3 separate regions of the Homo sapiens genome follow, and regions 2 and 3 are each linked to region 1. Evidence: fine-mapped expression QTL. A gene starts in region 1. Each other region holds a variant in brackets. All regions are shown on one strand. Distances are between the middles of the regions. Region 1 holds the start of PIGZ (phosphatidylinositol glycan anchor biosynthesis class Z (Gwada blood group)). Region 2 holds the start of NCBP2AS2 (NCBP2 antisense 2 (head to head)). Region 3 overlaps SENP5 (SUMO specific peptidase 5).

Evidence for each region.
Region 2: its variant is fine-mapped to the expression of PIGZ in whole blood (TOPMed, PIP above 0.99).
Region 3: its variant is fine-mapped to the expression of PIGZ in lymphoblastoid cells (TwinsUK, PIP 0.95).

Annotation. Positions count from the first base shown.
Region 1 is chr3:196,963,981-196,973,279 of GRCh38, reverse strand. PIGZ (phosphatidylinositol glycan anchor biosynthesis class Z (Gwada blood group)) reads left to right here and starts at 4,447. Exons shown (of 3, transcript NM_025163.4): 1 at 4,447-4,593. It overlaps LOC124906255 (collagen alpha-1(I) chain-like), which reads right to left and starts at 4,147. Exons shown (of 3, transcript XM_047449439.1): 1 at 4,031-4,147; 2 at 3,068-3,884; 3 at 1,469-2,979. The coding sequence starts at 4,147. The coding sequence ends at 3,069. RefSeq lists silencers at 3,108-3,327, 3,338-3,657, 3,768-3,827, 3,938-3,997, 4,008-4,217 and 1 more and enhancers at 3,263-3,798, 3,799-4,334, 4,335-4,870.
Region 2 is chr3:196,940,726-196,948,299 of GRCh38, reverse strand. It overlaps NCBP2AS2 (NCBP2 antisense 2 (head to head)), which reads right to left and starts at 5,626. Exons shown (of 1, transcript NM_001355243.2): 1 at 4,757-5,626. The coding sequence starts at 5,583. The coding sequence ends at 5,284. PIGZ (phosphatidylinositol glycan anchor biosynthesis class Z (Gwada blood group)) reads left to right here. Exons shown (of 3, transcript NM_025163.4): 3 at 1-1,944. The coding sequence ends at 1,143. It overlaps NCBP2 (nuclear cap binding protein subunit 2), which reads left to right and starts at 5,772. Exons shown (of 4, transcript NM_007362.5): 1 at 5,772-5,874. The coding sequence starts at 5,797. It overlaps NCBP2-AS1 (NCBP2 antisense RNA 1), which reads right to left. Exons shown (of 3, transcript NR_046630.1): 2 at 7,158-7,326; 3 at 5,766-5,907. RefSeq lists enhancers at 1-216, 3,745-4,418, 5,169-5,328, 5,093-5,766, 5,549-5,848 and 3 more. The variant C/A (reference allele first, on the strand shown) is at 2,959.
Region 3 is chr3:196,890,888-196,895,887 of GRCh38, reverse strand. The region is part of intron 2 of SENP5 (SUMO specific peptidase 5); the gene reads right to left. Among named protein-coding and RNA genes, the nearest start is that of SENP5, 25 kb to the right of the region's middle. The variant G/TG (reference allele first, on the strand shown) is at 1,979.

The sequences.
Region 1 (9,299 bases):
TCAGCTCGGCATCAGAGGGAGACCGTGGGGAGAGGGAGAGGGCGAGGGCGAGGGCGAGGGCGAGGGCGAGGGAGAGGGAGACAATGAGACTCCATCTTAAATAAATAAATAAATAAATAAATAAATAAGACCCTTGATTCTTACCTCACACCACCCATAAAGTTAGTTTGAGTGTATCATAGACCTAAACAAAAAGCCAAAACTATACAATTCTAGAAGAAAATATAGGAGAAAATATTTGCAACCTTACCTTAAGGTAGGCAATCAAGGAAAATGTTTAATAAATTGGACGCTGTCACAATTAGAAACTTTGGCTCTTTGAAAGATAACATTAGGAAAATGAAAAAACAGGTGGGTGTGGTGGCTCACACCTGTATTCCCAGCATTTTGGGAAGCTGAGGCAGTAGGATCACTTGAGCCCAGGAGTTCAAGACCAGCCTGGGCAACATAGCGAGATCTCATCTCTACTAAAGATAAAAAATTGAAATAAAAATAATTAGCCAGGCATAGTGGCGTGTGCCTATCATCCCAGCTACTCAGAAGGCTGAGGTGGGAGGATCACTTGAGCCCAGGAGTTCGAGATTGCATTTAGCTACAATTATACCACTGCACTGCAGCCTGGGAGACAGCATGAGACCCTGTCTCATGGAAAAAAAGAAAATGAAAAGACAAACCATAGAATGCTATGGGCTCTCATGCATTGCTGGTGGTAATGTCAAATAGTATGACCACTTTGAAAAACAATTTCTTACCATGCTGCCAGGCGCAGTGGCTCAAACCTGTAATCCCAGCACTTTGGGAGGCCAAGGCGGATGGATCACAAGGTTAGGAGTTCAAGACCAGCCTGACCAACATGGTGAAACCCCATCTCTCCCAAAATACAAAAATTAGTTGGGTGTGGTGGCGCAAGCCTGTAATCCCAGCTACTCAGGAGACTGAGGCAGGAGAATCACTTGAACCCAGGAGACGGAGGTTGCAGTGAGCCAAGATTGCACCACTGCACTCCAGCCTGGGCGACAGAGCGAGACTCCATCCCAAAAAAAAAAAAAAAAAAAAAAGTCTGGGTGTGGTGGCTCACGCCTGTAATCGCAGCACTTTGGGAGGCCGAGGCGGATGGATCACGAGGTCAGGAGATCGAGACCATCCTGGCTAACACAGTGAAACCCTGTCTCTGATAAAAATACAAAAAAAATAGCCGGGCTTGGTAGCAGGCGCCTGTAGTCCCAGCTACATGGGAGTCTGAGGCAGGAGAATGGCCTGAACCCGGGAGGCGGAGCTTGCAGTGAGCTGAGATGGTGCCGCTGCGCTCCAGCCTAGGCTACAGAGCAAGACTCCGTCTCAAAAAAATTAATTAATTAATTAATTAAATAAATTTTTTTAAAAAAAGACTCACCATGCAACCAAGCCATCCCGCCTACTTCCAGGCATTTTATCCGAGAGAAATGAAACATATGTATATTCAAAAAACTTTCTAGGAAGGCTCAAGTCAGTTTTATTCACAATGCCTTCAAACTGGAAACAACCCAGACATCCAACAACAACCCCGCATCCTCCTTTGGGGTCCTGAGAGGGTGCCTCCCCACCAGCCCAGCTTGGCCAACTTTAGTCCATCCATCAATGTCCAAATGGACAAACAGCCTGTGGCATATCCATACAATGGAATACTACTCACCAGTGGTAAGGAGGGAACTTGATACACACTTTAGTAAATACCTGAAATTTTAGGTTGCTTCAGTATCCATTTTGAATATAGGGTTAACAATTTCATACTAGAAGCAGGGCTTAGTCACCTTGGATACAGTTTCCAGCTCTCTGCTGGAAACAGTATCTCAACACATTCCGTCCAGATATCTGGTCCTAGGTAGCCACCTCCTGGTAACTGCCTCCTTGTGGGATGTATACATACAACCAACTAGACTCACCCCACTGACGCCCACACCCTGCATGGACTATGCAGATATGTCTCAGTGACCACCCCTAAGTCACAAGGTGGCCCCACAGGACTCCAGTTCGCTCCTCTAGGTGAACCAATTAGAGCTCCCCTTGGGAAAACTGCTTGAGTAATGCCCTGCACTCCAATAAAAGCCTCAGCCCACAGGTCCGTCTCTCTCTGGCTCCCCCCACCCCCACAACGATTGTGTACAGTGTCCCCAAGACATTCCCGACGGCCCTCAGTGTGCCCTCTTCCCCTGTGGATCTGTAAGTAATAGGACCACTTCTGTTAGTTCCTGTGTTTCGTTGTGTTGCCTGCTCTGTGTCATGCCTGACTGAGACGCTCAAACGTAACGTTTTCCCTGGTCAGGGCTTTCCCTAGAGAGCAGCTATCTTGGTAGGAATAAACTAGATACAGGTCAGACAAGAAGCACAAGGAGATCTGCCAGGATAAATATGTCTCCTGGGAGAGGGACACCCGGTCACAGGTCAGCCAGGATACAGAGGTGCCCCATGAAAGGCCCACGGCAAACACCCACGCCCAAATCCCAGGAGCCCTGTCAGGGCAGAGTTGGCCTTTACAGTGGCTCTCCAGGGAGGTCTCAAGACCAAGGTAGAGGAAAATACAACACACACACGCCACACGGGCGACGCTCAGCTGCATGGTGCCAAGCGAAGAAAGCCAGGCACAAAAGACCACACGGTGAATGGTTCTCCTTGCATGCAATTGCGAGAGAGGCAAAGGGCAGTGACAGAAATCAGAGGAGCAGTTGTCTGGAACCAGGGCGGAGGGGAGGTGAGGGGTTAGCTGCAGAGGGGCAGGAGGGTACTTTTGGGAGGAGAGGACTTCTTGAACTCGGGGGGAGACTAGCCTGGTGGTTTCGCGTGTCAGAAGTCATGGAACTGAGCCGGGCATGGTGGCGGGGCCTGTGGTCCCAGCTGCTCGGGAGGCTGAGGCAGGAGGATCGCTGGAGCCTAGAAGTTCAAGGCTGCGGTGAGCCGAGATCGTGCCACCGCACTCCAGCCTGGGCGACAGAGACCCTGTATCTAAAAAATAAAGGAAAAAATTCATGGAACTGTATACTTCCATGTACTGTACTTAAATTTCCTGGTATTTATCGTATGTATAGAATACCTCACATCTTAATAAAGTCGTCGTTTTTAGTGTGAGGGGTGCTATGGGGCACGGAGGGCGATCCGGCTGCCGACCCTCGGCGGCGGCGCGGGAGTGCGAGGCCGGCGGGGAGGTCGGGTCCTGCGGCCTCGCCGGGGCCCCTGCAGCGCTCTCCCGCCAGGGGGCAGCGTCGGGCCGGCGGCGCGGGCGGGAAGCTCCAGCGGCCGGGACGCGGTGGTGCCGTCTTCCCCCTGCGGTGAGGGACCGCGTCGCGCCACCCCGCTCTCAGCGCAGCCCGCAGCGGCGAGGCCACCGGGTGGGACACGGGTGCCCGCGCGTCGCGCCGCAGCTCGCGGGGACCTGGCGCCCCGTCCCGGGAGGGGATCTGGCCCCCGGGCGCCGGCTCTCCGTCCACGCGGCGTCCTCCCTGCAGCCCGCTAGGGCCGCTCGCCCGTCGCCGCCTGCGGAACGCGGAGGGGCAGCACGGCCACGCCCGGCCACTCGAACCTGCTCCCCGGCGCCGCGTGACCGTGTCAGGTCCCCGTCGGCCTCGCCGTGCCGACCCCGGGCGCCTCCACAGTGGCTCGGAGGCCGCTGCTGCCCGGATGCCCGGGTTCCACGAGGCTCTCCCAGCCCGACAAGCCCGCCGATCCCACGGGCACGGGCGGAGGAGAGGGAACCGCCGCGCCCGCCCCGCGCGCCGTCGCCGACCCCGGTGGGTCGCGCTTCCCCGCGCACGCCGCGCTCTGGCGCGGGGAGAGGCCCCTCGGGGTCCGCCCGGGTCAGCGTCCCGCGGGGGTGGCGGCCGTTCGCTCAGCCTCCTCTCGACTTCCCTTTCCTGTCAGGGCTGCTGGGGCTGACAGGCTCCCGGGCAACCACGCCGGGGAACCCCTCACGCCCGCCGATCGCTGCGGGGCTCAGCAGCCGCCCCGTGCGCTGAGTCCCCTGTCATGAGTGACTCCATTGCGAGGCGTTTCGGGCCACGAAGCAGGACCGGGGGCCGCACTCCGGGTCCCCGCCCTGCCCTCGCCGACCTCCCGCGCGTGGAAGGGGGACGGCGGCGGCGGAGCTCCCCGCCACGGAGAACCCCGAAATGGTCATTTCGAACGAGAGGAGTGTGGCCTGGGGTGTCTGGTTTAACAGCCCCCCGCGCCGAAAGGCTGTTCGCCGAGGAGGGGCCGCCGGGGAGGGAGCCCGAGCGCGGCGGGGCGAGACCGGTCCCCGCCCGGCGTTGCCCGGCCCGAGGGACGGCGGCGCCCCCAGGACCCTCCCCAGCGCGGCCCCAGCTCGCTCCGGGACCGCGGGGCCAGGCCGGGCGGGAGCGCGGGGACGTACACGGCGGCCCCGCCCGCGCGCTCCTCCTCCCTCCCGGCCCGCCCTGCGCCGGCGGCGGCGGCCCCAGTCTCCGCGCTGCTGAGGCGCGCCCGGCCGCTCCCACGGCCTCCCCTCCGCCCTGCGGTCCCGCCGCCTCCGGGGCCTCCTGGGACCCTGGCCCTCGCCGGGCAGGACGCCGCCAGCGCTGAAGGCGCAGCCCGGAGGCCGCGCGGGTGAGTCGGTGCGCAGCCCCAGCGGCTCCAGAGGAGCGGGTGCGGGGAGGGCGAGCGGACCAAGTCGGCCGCGTTCCCACCTTGCGCGCAGCCGGGAGACCAGCAGGCCCAGCCTCTAGGGAGGAGGGCAGGGGAGCTGGGGGCCGCCCCCCGCATTCTCGCAGGCACCTGTCCCTAGGCCGGGGTCCGCTGGCTCGAAGCACTGACCCGCCCCGGACCTAGGGGGACGGAGGCAGCGGTGACATTTGCCCAGGAAGGGCGGCAGTGGGTAAACTCCACTCCAGGGCACGGGTCTGGGCGCAGGTTGAGGCCTGGGGTTGAATCTGCTTCTGCTAGAGGCCAGTGTTCTCAGGGAGGCCCATAACCCGACTGGGTCTCAGTTCCCCCTGGTATGAAACAGCAACAGGGCAAGAGGAGGAAACCATGCCACGCTGCAAAGCTCTGAGCACGAAGCCGAGAAGAATCTCGGCTCCCGGCCTCGGGGGCTGCACTTCGGGCCAGGCCTGCACTCCCAGGATAAGAGGATGGCCTCCTGCCCCAGGGGTGGCATGGGGGCGCGCAAAAAGCAAAGGTGACCCTGCCAGGGAGCACCCAGCGCTCCGGTTGGTGGTCATGGGGTCTTTGCGTGGGACTCACAGTGTGGCCGGGAAAGTTCTGTAATGAGGACATTTCTCATCATTCCTTCTTCTCAAAAGTCATTCGTCAGCCCCAGACACCTTTGCCTCGGAAAACTGAGAACTACTTTCAAAATCGTCAACACCCCCATCTCCTGCTACAGAGCGGAGTCCCCACTTTGCAGAGGCGCACTGCAAGGTCGCGGGTGGTTAAATGGTGCGCCCTCCTTGATGAAGATGCCTTGTTCTCTTTCACTCTCTATGTGTGTTTAATGTTGTGTGTTGCGTTCTCTGTGAAGCGAAGGATAAACACGGGCCCTTTCAGGCAACCGAAGGAAGAAGGCGGCCAGCATCAGATCTTCCCGTGCTTCAAGGTGGAGCACCCTGCAGGGCTTACTGCAGCGCTCAGGGTCAAAGTGAGGATGCAGTGCGGCACCAAAAGGCAAATGGACTCTGGAGAGCCACTCTCACCTTGTACCCCTGGAGTAGACCCCGAGGACTGGAGGACTGGAACAAGATCTTAGTCCTGAGGGCGGGAGAAGCAGCCTTTGGTGGTTGCACAGGGGCCCGGCTTTTCCCGAAGTCTTAAAGCCTGCTCCAAATGCCAGATTCAGACAAAGGGGCCGAACCTTGGGCCCGCCGCCTTCTCCCATAAGCGGCAACCCAGCAGCTTTGCCAGGAAGTTTACATGTGAAGGTACGGACCTTTCTTGGAATGAGCCACACCTGATGGCCCTGCCACTCCGGACGGCGCTCGTTCACGGCTGTCCCTGGAGCAGACACGGTTCTGCGCACACACCTGGGCGCCGGAGAAACAGGGCACCCAAAGCGGGCCCAGGCCCTCGGACTCAGCGAGCTGGACACGTGTCCCCATCACCCGCGGCTGGCGGGAGCAGTGTTTCTACTCCCTTCCCTCCCCTCCTCCCGCCCCGCAGATGTGCTGTCTTTCCCGGCCTCCCCCCGCGCCCAGCACAGTGGTTTCTGCTTGGCTGTTCCCCTGTCTCTGAGATGGTCTCTCCCTGCTGCTTGCCCTACACATTCTCCCACACAGGCGCGCGGGATGCCCCTGTCGGCGTGGTTGTCAATGCCTGCTCCCCTGCCCCCCAGTCCAATCTCCACGACTCTGGGCCCTGTCGCTTCATCCTAAAGCCTTCCGCTCACGAGCCCTCCCGACGACCGACCCCCAGGAGGCTACTGGAGATGCAGGATTTGGACCCGTGCTGGACCCGCACCCGGACAGATCCCTCTGAATGAATGAATGAATTAATGAGCAGGCTGCATCCTGATTAGGTTAAGGTGGGTGGTTGCCATGCTTGGCGTTGGCTCTGTCCCCTGGGATAAAAGGCGAGAGGCAGCCACATGGACAGCTCCTCCAGTGGGGTCTCAGACTGGAGAGACGCCAGCGGGCGGGGGTCGTTCCCTGGAGCTCCCGCATTTGTTATGGTCGATGCCCCACTACGTTGTCACCTTCTCCGGAGGACCTCCTGCTCTGTCCTTGACAGATGGGCCCCAGTGGGCCCACCCAGGCTGGAGATGAATCTCAAAGGGACTCCATGCCTGGGAGACCTCAGCCAAGCAGGGCAGAGAAATAATCAGACAACAGTCAGCGCATGGCGCCTGCAGAGTTTTGCACAGGGTCCTTCAGAAGGAGGGTTAGGGAAGACTTCTTGGGGGTTAGGGCAGTTAAGCAAGATGGATAAAGAAAGCAACCACTTATGTCTGCATATTTTCTTCATTTCATCTTCACAACAGCCCTGAGATAGGTACTTGTTTTAAAGCTGAGGTATAAATTGGGGTTCAGAGAGATTGAGTGCTTTCACCATGAACAAGTGACAGAGAGCAACGACTTGAACCGGGTTACCTGATGCCACCGCTGGTCTTAACCTCCATGTTATTAGCGTATTGGGTAAGTGAAACCGTGTGAGCCAAGAAGCTGGGGTGAGAAACAGCACGGAATAGAGGAGAGGGCTGCAGAAAGGCGTGATGTTTCTGGAGCACCGAATTCTACTCACGAACACAGGAGTGGAGGCGGGAAGGGGACACTGGAAGCTATGGAGGGCCTTGTCAGCCACAGTAAGGAATGTGGACCTGGTCCTCAGGGTGGTGAGGGGATGGCCCCCCATCCAGAGGTTTCTCACAGGGGAGTGATTCGGCCTGTCTCTGCCGCAGTCAGAAGGAAGGATGCAGTGAGAGAGGGAAAGTGGAGAGGCGGATGGCGGTGCAGTCTACTCCAGGTCATGCTTCTTACCATCTCCCTCATTATTCATCCACAGAAAATGATTGCTGTTATATGACACACTGGTTAACAAAGGAGGGGGCTGTTTGCAAACAGAAACAACCAACCCAGGGCCTCCAGCCATCCAAAGATTCTGCACAGCCAGCCACCCCTAAGGCTAAGAAATCCCAGGTACATGCACACCAGTCACAGCATACCTGGACTCAGACAATGACAGTGGAGAATGAGGAACAAGAGCTGGGTTCAAGGAATAATTAGCAAGCAACGTTGGCATTACGTAGTGCAGGGACAAAGGAGGAGGGAGATAGCCCGTGGGATTCTGGACTAAATTGGGCAAATGGTATGACATGGTTAGGCTTTTGTGTCCCCGCCCCAATCTCATCTTGAATTGTAATCCCCAAGTGTTGAGGGAAAGACCCGGTGGGAGAGGATCGGATCATGGGGTGGTTTCCCCCACGCTGTTCTTCGGATAGTTAGGGAGTTCTCATGAGATCTGATGGTTCCATAAGCGTCCGTCATTTCCTCCACTCACACTCTCTCTTGCCACCTTGTGAAGAGGTGCCTGCTTCCCCTTCCGCTATGACTGTAAGTTTCCTGAAACTTCCCCAGCAATGTAGAACTGTGAGTCAATGAAACCTCTTTTATTTAGAAATTGCCCAGTCTTGGGCAGTTCTTTATAGCAGTGTGAGAATAGATTAACACAGTAAATTGGTACCAGGAGTGTGGGACACTAATACATGGTAGTTTCCTCATTGCTGTAGGGAGCATGGGGACAGGGCTCATTCCAGGGAAGGTGATGAGTTCTTTTGGGCTGCCCTGTGTTTGAAGCAGGTACAGAAGCCTAACGGGCAGTGGAGCAGGGCAGTGGAGTCAAACAGACCGGGTCCATCTTCCAGCTCCACCAACTTAGTAGTTCCGTTACCTTTTGCAAAAAGCCTGTTCATTTGTGTGTAAGACAGGGATAAGAATAGGTTCATAGAGGCTGAGGTGGGAGGATTGCTAGAGCCTGGGAGGCAGAGGTTGCAATGAGCTGAGATCATGCCACTGCGCTCCAGCCTGGGTGACAGAGTGAGACCCTGTCTTAAAAAACAAAAAAAAGGATAGGGTTATAGACTTCCCATAATTAAATAAGATAAGGTACAAAGCCTGGAAGGTAATATGTATCTAATAAATGGCAGTGCTAGACTGGGCACGGTGGCACACGCCTGTAATCCCAGCACTTTGGGAGGCCGAGGCAGGTGGGTCATGAGGTAGGAGTTTGAGACCAGCCTGGCCAAGATGGTGAAACCCCATCTCTACTAAAAATACAAAAATTAGCCAGGCGTGGTGATGCGTGCCTGTAGTCCCAGCTACTTAGGAGGCTGAGGCAGAAGAATCGCTTGAACCTGGGAGACAAAGGTTGCAGTGAGCCAAGATCGTGCCACTGCACCTAGCCTAGGCGACAAGCAAGACTCCATCTCAAAAAAATTAAAAAAAAATGGTAGTGCTAGGCCGGGCACGGTGGCTCATGCCTGTAATCCCAGCACTTTGGGAGGCCGAGGTGGGCGGATCACGAGGTCAGGAGATCGAGACCATCCTGGCTAACATGGTGAAACCTCGTCTCTACTAAAAATGCAAAAAATTAGCCGGCCTGGTGGCAGTCGCCTGTAGTCCCAGCTACTTGGGAGGCTGAGGTAGGAGAATGGCGTGAACCCGGGAGGTGGAGCTTGCAGTGAGCTGAGATTGCACCACTGCACTCCAGCCTGGGCGACAGAGTGAGACTCCGTCTCAAAATAAATAAATAAATAAATAAAAATAAAAATAAAAGCAAACAAATAAAAAAAGGTAGTGCTATTATTATTGTTATACTATTCCTTA
Region 2 (7,574 bases), 24 kb after region 1:
CCTACACGCAAGGAGCCGGCGCCGGGTCCACGGTGGCGCAGCTGGCTTCTTGGAGGCATTGTGGCTGCTGGCTTCTTCAACCGGCCCACCTTTCTGGCCTTTGCTGTGGTCCCCCTCTACCTCTGGGGCACTCGTGGAGCCACAAACCCTGGTTTGAAGTCTCTGACCCGGGAGGCCCTGGTGCTGCTCCCTGGGGCAGCCCTCACAGCAGCGGTGTTTGTGGCCACGGACAGCTGGTATTTCTCCAGCCCCGCTACATCCAGGAACCTTGTCCTGACACCTGTCAACTTCTTGCACTACAACCTGAATCCCCAAAACCTGGCGAGACATGGCACGCACGCGCGGCTCACTCACCTGGCAGTCAACGGCTTCCTGCTCTTCGGGGTGCTGCATGCCCAGGCCCTGCAGGCTGCGTGGCAACGGCTGCAAGTCGGCCTCCAGGCCTCTGCACAAATGGGCCTCCTGAGGGCACTGGGTGCCCGGAGCCTGCTGTCCAGCCCCAGGTCCTATCTCCTTCTCCTCTACTTCATGCCTCTGGCCCTGCTATCTGCCTTTAGCCACCAGGAGGCTCGGTTCCTGATTCCCCTCCTGGTCCCCCTGGTCCTGCTTTGTAGTCCACAGACGCAGCCTGTGCCTTGGAAGGGCACTGTGGTCCTCTTCAACGCCCTCGGTGCCCTCCTCTTCGGCTGCCTGCATCAGGGGGGCCTGGTGCCTGGCCTGGAGTACCTGGAGCAGGTGGTCCATGCCCCTGTGCTCCCAAGCACACCCACCCACTACACACTCCTCTTCACTCACACCTACATGCCCCCCCGGCACCTCCTACACCTCCCAGGCCTGGGGGCACCAGTGGAGGTGGTGGACATGGGGGGGACTGAGGACTGGGCCCTGTGCCAAACCCTGAAAAGCTTCACCAGACAACCAGCCTGCCAAGTGGCTGGTGGGCCATGGCTCTGCCGCCTCTTTGTGGTAACCCCTGGCACCACCAGGCGTGCCGTGGAGAAGTGCAGCTTCCCCTTCAAGAATGAAACACTTTTATTTCCCCATCTGACCCTGGAGGATCCACCAGCCCTGTCCTCCTTGCTGAGTGGGGCTTGGAGGGACCACCTCAGTCTTCACATTGTGGAGCTGGGGGAAGAAACCTGACAATATGACAGAGCACCCACTGCCCAAGACTCAGCCATAGAAGATGCCGCCCCACCTTCTACTTGGGTAGCTGGGCTGGGACGCTGGGACAGGACCCCGTCCTCCTTCATGACTCCCACTGCTGCCTCTCCTGGGCATGGCTGTTAGCTGTTCTGCCTTCTGGGTGAGCTGGCACTCTTCTCCCTGAGACCAAAGATTTGACCTGTCGGTCTTGATGTCAAGGTCCCCAAAGACCAGGTTAAGTGACGACACCTGTCTGTTCCTGCCCTGTTGCTTCCAGCCACTGTGATGTTTGAAATATGTGATAGTACCTGGTTGTGAAAAAAGACAATGAACTGCTAGTGACATTCCTCAATGACCTCTCCCAAACCTCCCATGATGCCTTACCCTTGCTGTCATGACAACCCTCTGGCTTCCTAAGACCCATCTGCCTATCGAAATATGTGCAAGTCAGTGAGACGAAGTATAGAGAACAGGTGGCCCAGATCCAGGGGACCCAACTTCTGGCCCCTTGGTCTGTCACCTCCTCGCTGTGTGATCTTGAGAAAGCTCCTTCCACTCACCCACCCCACTTCCCAGTCTGTTGGGATCAGAGGAACTTTGAGGTGTCTGCCGGCTAACATTGTGTCATTCCTGGAGTCCACAGTACACGTCCCCTGCCTCAACAGGCACAGCTCTCACAAAGCTCTTCAAGCATGGAAGTGGGAGTTGTGTTGTACTTCATGGCACTCTGATGCCTGCTGTCTCAGTGTTTGGTTATTATGCAAACAAGTAATGTTTGAAATATATAATAGCACTGGAGATTTTCTCCCTACTTTCTTTTACTCCTGTTCCTGAGAGGTGGTGGGAAACTCTCCAGCCATTTCTGCACCTTGTCCTTAAGAGTCATTCTCCTGGCTGGGCATGGTGGCTCACACCTGTAATCTCAGTACTGAGAGGCCAAGGTAGGCAGATCTCGAGGTCAGGAGTTCAAAACCAGCCTGGCCAACATGGTGAAACCCCATCTCTACTAAAAATATAAAAATTAGCCAGGCGTGGTGGCACGCACCTGTAATCCCAGCTACTCAGGAGGCTGAGGCAGGAGAATTGCTTGAACCCAGGAGGCAGAGGTTGCAGTGAACCGAGAGCCACTGCATTCCAGCCTGGGAGACAGAGCAAGACTCCGTCTTGGGGGAAAAAAAAAAAAAGGGGGTCATTTTCCCAGATTAGGGAGCCAGGTGTTCTTCCTCCTTAGAACTGTGGGTCTCAAGCCCTCCCATCCTGCCCCAGAGGGCAGAGAACACACAACACTCAGCTAGTGTCTGGTTACCAGCCTCAATTTTTCCGATGGCTTCAAGCTTTCTAGATTGCATGATTAACTGTGCTGCCTAACTAGAAATGATCAGAGCTGGGTGTGGTGGCTCACACCAGTAATCCCAGCACTTTGGGAGGCGGAAGCAGGAGAACTGCTTGAGGCCAGGAGTTCAAGACCAGCCTGGGCAACAAAGTGCAATGCCATTTCAACCAAAAACAAAACAAAACAAAATTGTGGCTGGGCGCGGTGGCTCACACCTGTAACCCCAGCACTTTGGGAGGCCGAGGTGGGCAGATCACAAGGTCAGGAGATCGAGACCATCCTGGCCAACGTGGTGAAACTCCGTTTCTACTAAAATACAAAAAATTAGCCAGGCATGGTGGCACGCACCTGTAGTCCCAGCTGCTCAGGAGGATGAGGCAGGGGAATCACTTGAACCCGGGAGGTGGAGGTTGCAGTGAGCCGAGATCGCACCACTGCACTCCAGCCTGGTGACAGAGTAAGGCTCCGTCTCAAAAAAA[C/A]AAAAAAAACAGAAAAAAAGTTTTTAATTAGCTGGGCATAGTGTCATGGGCCCGTAATCCCAGCTACTTGGGAGTCCCAGGGAGGAAGATCGCTTGGCCCAACGGGTCGAGGTTGCAGTGACAGCTAGTATTGTGCCACTGCACTCCAGCCTGGGCAAGAGTTAGGTCCTGTCTCAAAAAAAAAATCAGAAATTTAGCTAGGAGCTTCAAATGACAGGACATTTCTATATACAATGGATTTCCTAATCGCAGGTCTGCTAACTGGCTGGATCGTAGTCTGTCTGTATCCCTGACCCTCTAAAATGAGGGGTAGTGAAGGGGTGGGTTGCCCCTCCACACCTGTGGGTGTTTCTCGTTAGGTGGAAGGAGAGACTTGGAAAAGAAAGAGACACAAAGTATAGAGAAAGAAAAAAGGGAGCCCAGGGGGCCGGCATTCAGCAGACGAGGATCCCGCCGGCCTCTGAGTTCCCTTAGTATTTATTCATCATTCTTGGGTGTTTCTCGGAGAGGGGGATGTGTCAGGGTCATAAGATAATAGTGGAGAGAAGGTCAGCAGATAAACACGTGAACAAAGGTCTCTGTGTCATAGACAAGGTAAAGAACTAAGTGCTGTGCTTTAGATATGCATACACATAAACATCTCAATGCCTTACAGAGCAGTATTGCTGCCCCCATGTCCCACCTCCAGCCCTAAGGCGGTTTTCCCCTAACTCAGTAGATGGAACATACAATCGGGTTTTACACCATTGCCCAGGGACGGGCAGGAGACAGATGCCTTCCTCTTGTTTCAACGGCAAAGAGGCGTTCCTTCTTCTTTCACTAATCCTTCTCAGCACAGACCCTTTACGGGTGTCACGCTGTGAGGGACGGTCAGGTCTTTCCCTTCCCACGAGGCCATATTTCAGACTATCACATGGGGAGAAACCTTGGACAATACCTGGCTTTCCTAGGCAGAGGTCCCTGTGGGCTTCCGCAGTGTTTGTGTCCCTCGGTACTTGAGATTAGGGAGTGGTGATGACTCTTAACGAGCATGCTGCCTTCAAGCATCTGTTTAACAAAGCACATCTTGCACCGCCCTTAATCCATTTAACCCTGAGTGGACACAGCACATGTTTCAGAGAGCAGGGGGTTGGGGGTGGGGTTACAGATTAACAGCATCTCAAGGCAGAAGAATTTTTCTCAGTACAGAACAAAATGGAGTCTCCTATGTCTACTTCTTTCTACACAGACACAGTAACAATCTGATCTCTCTTTTCCCCACAGGATAGGAGTCCAGGTAACTTGTTCCATGGCAGGCAGTAGTCTTTTTTTTTTTTTTTTTTTTTTTTGAGAAAGGTTCTCGCTATGCTACCCAGGCTGGTCTCATCTCAGGCTCATGCGATCCTCCTGCCTCTGCAGTGGCTGGGATAAGACACAACTGCCACCAGGCCCTGCCCCTAGGCAGTAGTCTTAATGCCTGATGGTGGGGGGTTGGGGAAGGAAGGGGTTGAGTATCAGGGTAAATGCTGCAGAGCTGTGTTAAGGACTTAGGCCCTGGAGTCAAATGCCTCTGCTCACATCCCACTCTGCAAGACTTTGGGCAACTTAAGCAGCAGCCTCTGTTTCCATCGCAGTGGCTCTTGCCTATAATCCCAGCACTTTGGGAGGCTGAGGCGGGAGGATCACTTGCGCCCAAGAGTTCGAGACCACCCCATCTCTACAAAAAAATCCAAAAAGTAATCTGCTTCCTCATGTGAATGTCGTTGTAAGGAGTGAGATAACACATAGAGTGCAATGAGCAAGTCCCAGCACAGAAGACTCATTTCATAAAATACGTGTTTATTATTACCATAGGCCTACAGTCCCCGGTATTCTTAACACATCTTGCCTGAGAAGTATCACACTCATGCCTATCAACCAGCTCACACATTTAATCAAAGGAATTTGGCAGCTGTAGGGTTGTCTTTTCATCCATATCGTCCCTGGAATTAACTGTCCTGCTATACCAGTCAGATTGAGCAGCATCTGTCAAGAGTTTCAGTCCCACTTGCAGAGGAAAGGCTCTCTGGCTTCGGTCCGTGGCTCTCCGTAGGTGCCGTGTCTGGACCCAGCCTACCTTCATCTCTGTTAGGCTTAGGGCTGTCTCCACACTGTGTCTTGTCCAATCACAAGACTTCAACGGAGCGGGCGGTCTGGCCTAGGCTCTTATGCGTGGGATGTCTGCAGGCCAACAATCCCAGTCGGGATTCGAAGCCGCGCGCAGTGCCCGGAATGACCCCTCCACATTGATGCCACTGTAGAGCCCGGAAGGAAAAGCAAGCGGCCTCGGCCCCGCACAGCCCAGGATTAAATGTTTGCGCCAGGGCCCCTCTGGCTACCTGGTGGTGGCCCCGAGCGGCCTCGGAGGCCGCGGCGTAGCTCCTGGGTGAAGGCGTCTCTAAATCGCTCAGCGCGGCGGCACAGGGAGCCCACGGGCCCAGCCGCGAGGTCCTGCAGGCGGCGGGCCGCGTCCTGGCCCCGCAGCTGGGCCTGCAGCAGTGCGAAGGCCGTGAGCTGCGCCGCACGTCGGATAGGCCGCGACTCTGACAGACGTTCCACCAGCTGCGGGCTGTGCAGCAGGGCGGCCAGCAGCCGCCGCAGCACCATCTTCTCCAAGCGCCCGGAACCCGACCTCGCCGCCCTCGTCTTCCGCCCCGCGGCGCCCGACCCGGACGTCTATGCCCCCGCGCAGCTTGATGACGACACGCCGCCCTCGGATTGGGTCCAATGAGATGCTCGCCTCCGCGCGTTTCCGCTTCCGCCATCGCGGACGCAGCCTCGTGCCGGGAGTCGCCGCATTGTGGTCCGCTTCTCTGCACTATGTCGGGTGGCCTCCTGAAGGCGCTGCGCAGCGACTCCTACGTGGAGCTGAGCCAGTACCGGGACCAGCACTTCCGGGTGAGGGAGGCCGGGCCGCGAGACGGGAAGGCCCTGGGCAAGAACGCTGAGAAACGGTTTGCTCTTGTCTCATTGTGTCGCCTCCCATTCAGCTGAAATCCGCAAACGCCAAGTGGGGCCCCGGTGCCTGCTGGCGAGGCAGGGAATGGGTGCTGGAAGGGCGCTTGGATATCACTGAAGCCACTTGCTCTGGAAGACGGGGAACTGGAGGCTCGCTTATCCCATTCGCTCGCAGCCGCTCCCTGTACCCCAGCCAGTGCCGAGAGGTTTGAGCGGTGGTGGTGGTGGCGGCTCCCGTTTCCACGGTTGTGCCTCCGCAGACGACTACGTAGCAAGGGGGAGGGGTGCCCTTCTCTCTCCCAGAGTAGGCAGAGGCGCCTTCCTGATGCAGATGCGGGGCTTTTTGCTTTGTTTTTTAAATCGGCGAAGCAGTGCCCTTCGGCGATTCGGGCCCCTTCTCTGGGAGGATGGTGTTACGGAAGCTGTACGCGGTGCGTGGGAGACACAAGTGGAGTCCTCACTCCGCCCTCGGGGAAGCTTCGGAGTGGGGAGGTGGACCCGCCAAGCTCGGCACTTTGAGGGTGTTCGGATGTAAAGATCGGAGAATTGCTGGATTTCAGAAGAGGGAAATTTTTAGTCCGGACTATATCACAGTATATTTTGTGGAAAAAGGGGAGGCAGCAGATATTCAAAGTAGACTTTTCAGTATCAGCGGAGGTAGGGATGGAATACGGTTGGGGGTTGGCGGGGCGGGACTCATTAACCCAATTATTTAGTAAACGTTTATCGAGTGCTGTCGCCAAATCCTTGTGCTAAACCCTAGAGGGAGAGGGAAGACAGTTTCTGCGCTCTGCGAGCTCATAATCCCCTGTAGTGAGGATTCAGAAAAGGGAAAAATCCCCTTGTGACTGGGAAAGGAAGGGGCGCATATAGCAGAGGGTAAGTGTGGAGAATGTGTGAAATGTGTTACTAGAGTAGGGAAAGGGAAATTTTGTTTGACGCTAAATTAGGGAAGCTCTTAGATTTATTTAGTCAAGGCTGGGAACGGTGGCTCACGCCTGTAATCCCAGCACTTTGGGAGGCTGAGGCGGGTGGATCACGAGGTTAGGAGTTCAAGACTAGCCTGGCCAAGATGGTGAAACCCCGTCTTACTAAAAATACAAAAATTAGGCGGGCGTGGTGGCAGGCGCTTGTAATCCCAGCTATTCGGGAGGCTGAGGCAGGAGAATCGCTTGAACCGGGGAGGTGGAGGTTGCTGTGAGATCGCGCCACTGCACTCCAGCCTGGGCAACAGAGCGATATTCCTTCTCAAAAAAAAAAAATTTATTCAGTTAATGTATTTTATTTTTTGAGACAGAGTCTCGCTTTATTGCCTAGGCTGAAGTGCAGTGGCGCAATCACGGCTCACGCAGCCTCAACCTCCTGAGCCTAAGTGATCCTACCCACCTCAGCCTCCTGAGAAGCTGGGACCACAGGCTCGCGCCACCACATCCAGCTAATTTTTTGTAGAGACAGGGTCTCCCTGTGTTGCTCAGGCCAGTCTCGAACTCTGGGACTCAAGCGATCCACCTGCCTGGGGCTTCCCAAAGTGCTGGGATGCCTAAGTGCCAGGCATGATTTGCACTTCTACCACTTTTAGTTACTACTTTAGACAGTTCCACATCCTGACCATTTTGAACTTAAAGCATCCTGTGAGATGA
Region 3 (5,000 bases), 75 kb after region 1:
GCAAGTACAAAAGGTAGTAATATAAAAAACAAAACCTGAGGTGTCATTTTAGAATTTAAAGTACCCGGCCAGGCACGGTGGCTCATGCCTGTAATCCTAACACTTTGGGAGGCTGAGACAGAAGGATTGCTTAAGCTCAGAAGTTCAAGACCAGTCTGGGCAACAAAGTGAGACCGCTTCTCTACAAAAAATACAAAAATTAGCCAAGCATGTTGGCACATGCCTGTAGTCCCAGCTACTCGGGAGGGTGAGGTGGGAGGATGGGTTGAGCCTGGGAGGCAAAGACTGCAGTGAGCCAAGATCCCACCACGGCACTCCAACTTGGGCAACAGAACGAGACCCTGCCTCAAAAATAACTGAAAAAATAAAAAAGAACTTTTTAAAAAAAAGAAGTTAAAGTAAGGCCGGGCGCGGTGGCTTACGCCTGTAATCCCAGCACTTTGGGAAGCCGAAGCGGGTGGATCACGAGGTCAGGAGATCGAGACCATCCTGGCTAACATGGTGGAACCCTGTCTCTACTAAAAAATACAAAAAATTAGCCGGGCATGGTGGCGGGCGCCTGTAGTCCCAGCTACTCGGGAGGCAGGAGAATGGCGTGAACATGGGAGGCGGAGCTTGCAGCGAGCTGAGATTATGCCACTGCACTCCAGCCTGGGTGACAGAGTAAGACTCCGTCTCAAAAAAAAAAAAAAAAAAAGAAGTTAAAAGTAGCCATCATGTTAAACTAACGGCACTGGACAGTTTTCGTTTGATGCAACTGACCTGGGTCACATTCCACCCTGGATGTGGAATGAGGTTCCCCGTGCTGTGCACGTAAGAAATGCAAGCACATGGTTCTCCAACAAAACACAGTGCATACCTCAGAACGGGCCCATCAGCAGTAAGGAAGGTATACAGTATCTAAGAACAAACATAAGCAATGCGCAAAACCTAAGTGAAAAGATGCGAAATATGACTAAGGGACAGGAAGTCTTTTGCAATGAAAGCAACTGTCCCTAAATTAATCTATAAATATAATGCAACAACAAGTAAAAACCATACTTTTTTAAAAGATTACAAAATAAATCCAAAATTTACCTTGGGACAAAAATGTGAGAAATTCCTAGAAATTTTTGAAAAGAATTAAAGGAGAGAGGTGAATAAGGAGCGCCAGGTCCTGTCAAATGATAAAACTACGCTAATTAAGGCAAATAGAGCCAGCATGGAATAGAGATCAAATCCAAAGAGACTCTGTGGTAGGTTGCATTTCTGAACCACAGGGAAAAGAGCAAATCACTCAATAAACAGTATTAGAACTACCAACTAATTTCATTGGTTCCCAGACCCATGGGAATAAATTTAAAAAAAAAAAAAGAACTCGCAACTAAATATTTTATTAACAGCTGGAATTCATTTTGGTGTAAAGAATGAGGTAAGGATCTACCTTAACTTTTTTCCAAAGCACTAAATTAAAAATAACACATTAGGCCGGGGGCAGTAGCTCACATTTGTAATCCCAGCACTTTGGGAGGATAAGGCGGGCGGATCACCTGAGTTTGGGAGTTTGAGACAAGCCTGACCAACATGGAGAAACCCTGTCTCTACTAAAAATACAAAATTAGCCGGGCGTGGTGGCGGGCACCTGTCATCCCAACTAATCGGGAGGCTGAGGCAGGAAAATTGCTTGAACCCAGGAAGTGGAGGCCACCGTGAGCCGAGATCACGCCACTGCACTCCAGCCTGGGCAACAAGATCAAAACTCTGTCTCCAGAAAAAAAAAAAAAAAAAAAAACCACATTAATATCTAGAAAAAAAGAGTTGGACATTTTTATAAACATTTACTTTATATGTGGAAACAACCTTTTAAGTAGTTATTTTTTCTCATACACGACCATAAATATTTTTAAATAAATGGCAGTGAGCCCATAATTCCTTCTGGACTTTCAAGCCCTTTGAACATGTATTTCTTAAACACACTAAATTTTTTTTTTTTTTTTTT[G/TG]AGACAGAGTCTCACTCTGTCACCCAGGCTGGAGTGCAGTGGTGCGATCTCAACTCACTGCAACCTCCAACTCACAAGTACAAGCAATTCTCCTGTCTCAGCCTCCCAAGTAGCTGGGACTACAGGCGCATGCCACCATGCCTGGCTAATTTTTGTATTTTTAGTAGAGACGGAGTTTCACCATATTGGTCAGGCTAGTCTTGAACTCCTGACCTCAGGTGATCCACCCACCTCGGCCTCCCAAAGTGCTGGGATTACAGGCATGAGCCACCGCGCCCGGCCTAAACTTACTCTTCTTGAAGCTGCTTTTTTCCATTCACTATATCATGGACAGTTCTCTTTTGCCTGAAAAAATGCATACTGTATTGTAACCAATTCCCTACTGATGGCCATTTATTTTTACCTCTAAATAATGTAACAATTAAAACTCTTGATCTATCCTAGTTCTACTGTTTCCCTTGGACACACCTACTACAAGTTAAATTTCTGGGTAAAAGGGCATGCATATCTAAATTTTTAAATTTTCATCTAACTTTTGCTATACACACACACATGCACACAAGATTTAAATGTCTGTAGAGTCAATTTGGTATATTTTCATTGCTTCTGAGCTTCCTATTATGGGCAAAAATGTCTTATCAATATAAGATTATAAAAATGGTCTCCTGCTCAAACAACGAATAGCAAGAACATAACCCAATTTAAAAAGCAGGCAAAGGACTTGAATGTGGAGAAAGGGGAACCCTGTACACTGTTGGTGGGAATGTGAATTAGCACAGCCATGAAGGAAAACAGTATACAGGTTCCTCAAAAAATTAAAAATAGAACTACCATATGATCCAGCAATTCCATTTCTGAGTGTATTTCAAAGACAATAAAATCAGTGTGTTGAAGAGGTACCTGCACCCCATACTCACTGCGGCACTATCCACAATAGCCAAGACATGGCATCAACCTCAATGCCCATGAGTGGATGAATGGAGAAAGAAAATGTAGTATATATACACAATGGAATACAATTCAGCCTTAAAACATCCTGTCATCTGCAACATGGATGAATCTGGAGCATAATATGTGAAATATGCCAGACACAAAAAAATATACTGCATGATCTCACTTACATGTGGAATCTAAAGTCAAACTCATAGACGTAGAGAATCAACGGTAGTTACCAGGGGCTGGGGGTGGGGCAGAGAATTGGAAGATGTTGGTCAAGGGTCATAAAGCTTCCGTTAGACAGGAGGAAGTGGTCCTAGAGATCTATTGTACAGTCTGGTGACTATAGTTAATAATAATGTACTGTGTCTTGAAAATAGATGAGAATTGATTTTAAATGTTCTCACGACGAAGTGAGTGATGGATATGCTGATTATCTTGATTTACTTCACAAAGTAAACATATATCAAAACATCACATTGTACCCCATAAATATATAGAATTTTGTCAATTAAAAATAATCTTTAGGTCAGGCACAGTGGCTCATGCCTGTAATCCCAGCACTTTGGGAGGCTAAGCCGGGCGGATCACTTGAGGTGAGGAGTTCAAGACCAGCCTGGCCAACATGGTGAAACCCCATCTCTACTAAAAATACAAAAAATTAGCCAGGCATATAGTGGCGCACCTCTGTGGTCCTGGCTACTCCAGAGGCTGAGGCACGAGAATCGCTTGAACCCGGGAGGCGGAGTTTGCAGTGAGCTGAGATCACGCCTCTGCACTCTAGCCTGGGAGACAGAGGGAGACTCTGTCACAAACAAAGAAACCAAAAACTTAAAAAGAATGATTTCCTGTATTTTTTTTTTCTTTTTTTAAGAGTCAAGGTCGGCCGGGCGCGGTGACTCACGCCTGTAATCCCAGCACTTTGGGAGGCTGAGGCAGGTGGATCATGAGGTCAGGAGATTGAGACCATCCTGGCTAACACAGTGAAACCCCGTCTCTACTAAAAATACAAAAAATTAGCCGGGCGTGGTGGCACATGCCTATAGTCCCAGCTACTCCGGAGGCTGAGGCAGGAGAATCGCTTGAACCCAGAAGGCAGAGGTTGCAGTAAGCAAAGATCACGCCACTGCACTCCAGCCTGGGAGAAAGAGTGAGACTCCGTCTCAAAAAAAAGAGAGAGACAAGGTCTTGCTGTCACCCAGCGTGGAATGCAGTCGAGCTACCATAGCTCACTTCAACCTCAAACTCCTGGCTTCAAGCAGTCCTCCCACCTCATCCATCTGAGGAGCTGGGACTACAGGCATGCACCACCACATGCAGATAATTTTATTTTTTGTAGCAATAGAGTCTCGCTAAATCTATATACATCCCTCTATGTATTTATATCGCTATGTTGCCCAGGCTGGTCTCAAACTCCTGCCCTCAAGCGATCCTTCTGCCTCAGCCTCCTAAAGTGCTGGGATTACAGATGTGAGCCACCATGGCCGGCCTATATTTGTTTCTTTTTAACAGCTTTATTGAGATGTGATTCACACACCACAAAATTTGCCCCATTAAAGAACACAATTCACTGTTTTTTAATATATTCAGATTGTGTAACTATCACTACTACCTAATTCCAGAACACCTCCATTACCCCACAAAGAAACTCTATACCCATTAACAGTCACCTCTCATTCCCCTTCTTCCCAGCTCCTGGCAACTATTAATCTACTTTATATCTCTATGTATTTGCCTATTCTGGACATTTCAAATGAACGAAATCATATGTTATAAGGCCTTTTGTGTCTGGCTTTTCACTTAGCATGCTTCCAAGGTGCATCCACATTTAAGTATATATCGGTGTTTATTCCTTTTATAGAATAATATTCCATTGTATAGATATACCAAATTTTATTTATCCATTCATCAGGTGTTGAACATTTAGGTTGTTTTCACTTTCTGGATATTATGAACAATGCTGTTACAAGCATTCGTGTACACATTTCTGTGTATTTGGTTTTAATTAGCCAAACTTTTAATCCATCTGGAATGTTTTGCGGCACAGGAATCTATCCCTTTTCCCTCCAAAAGAAGTAACCATCCA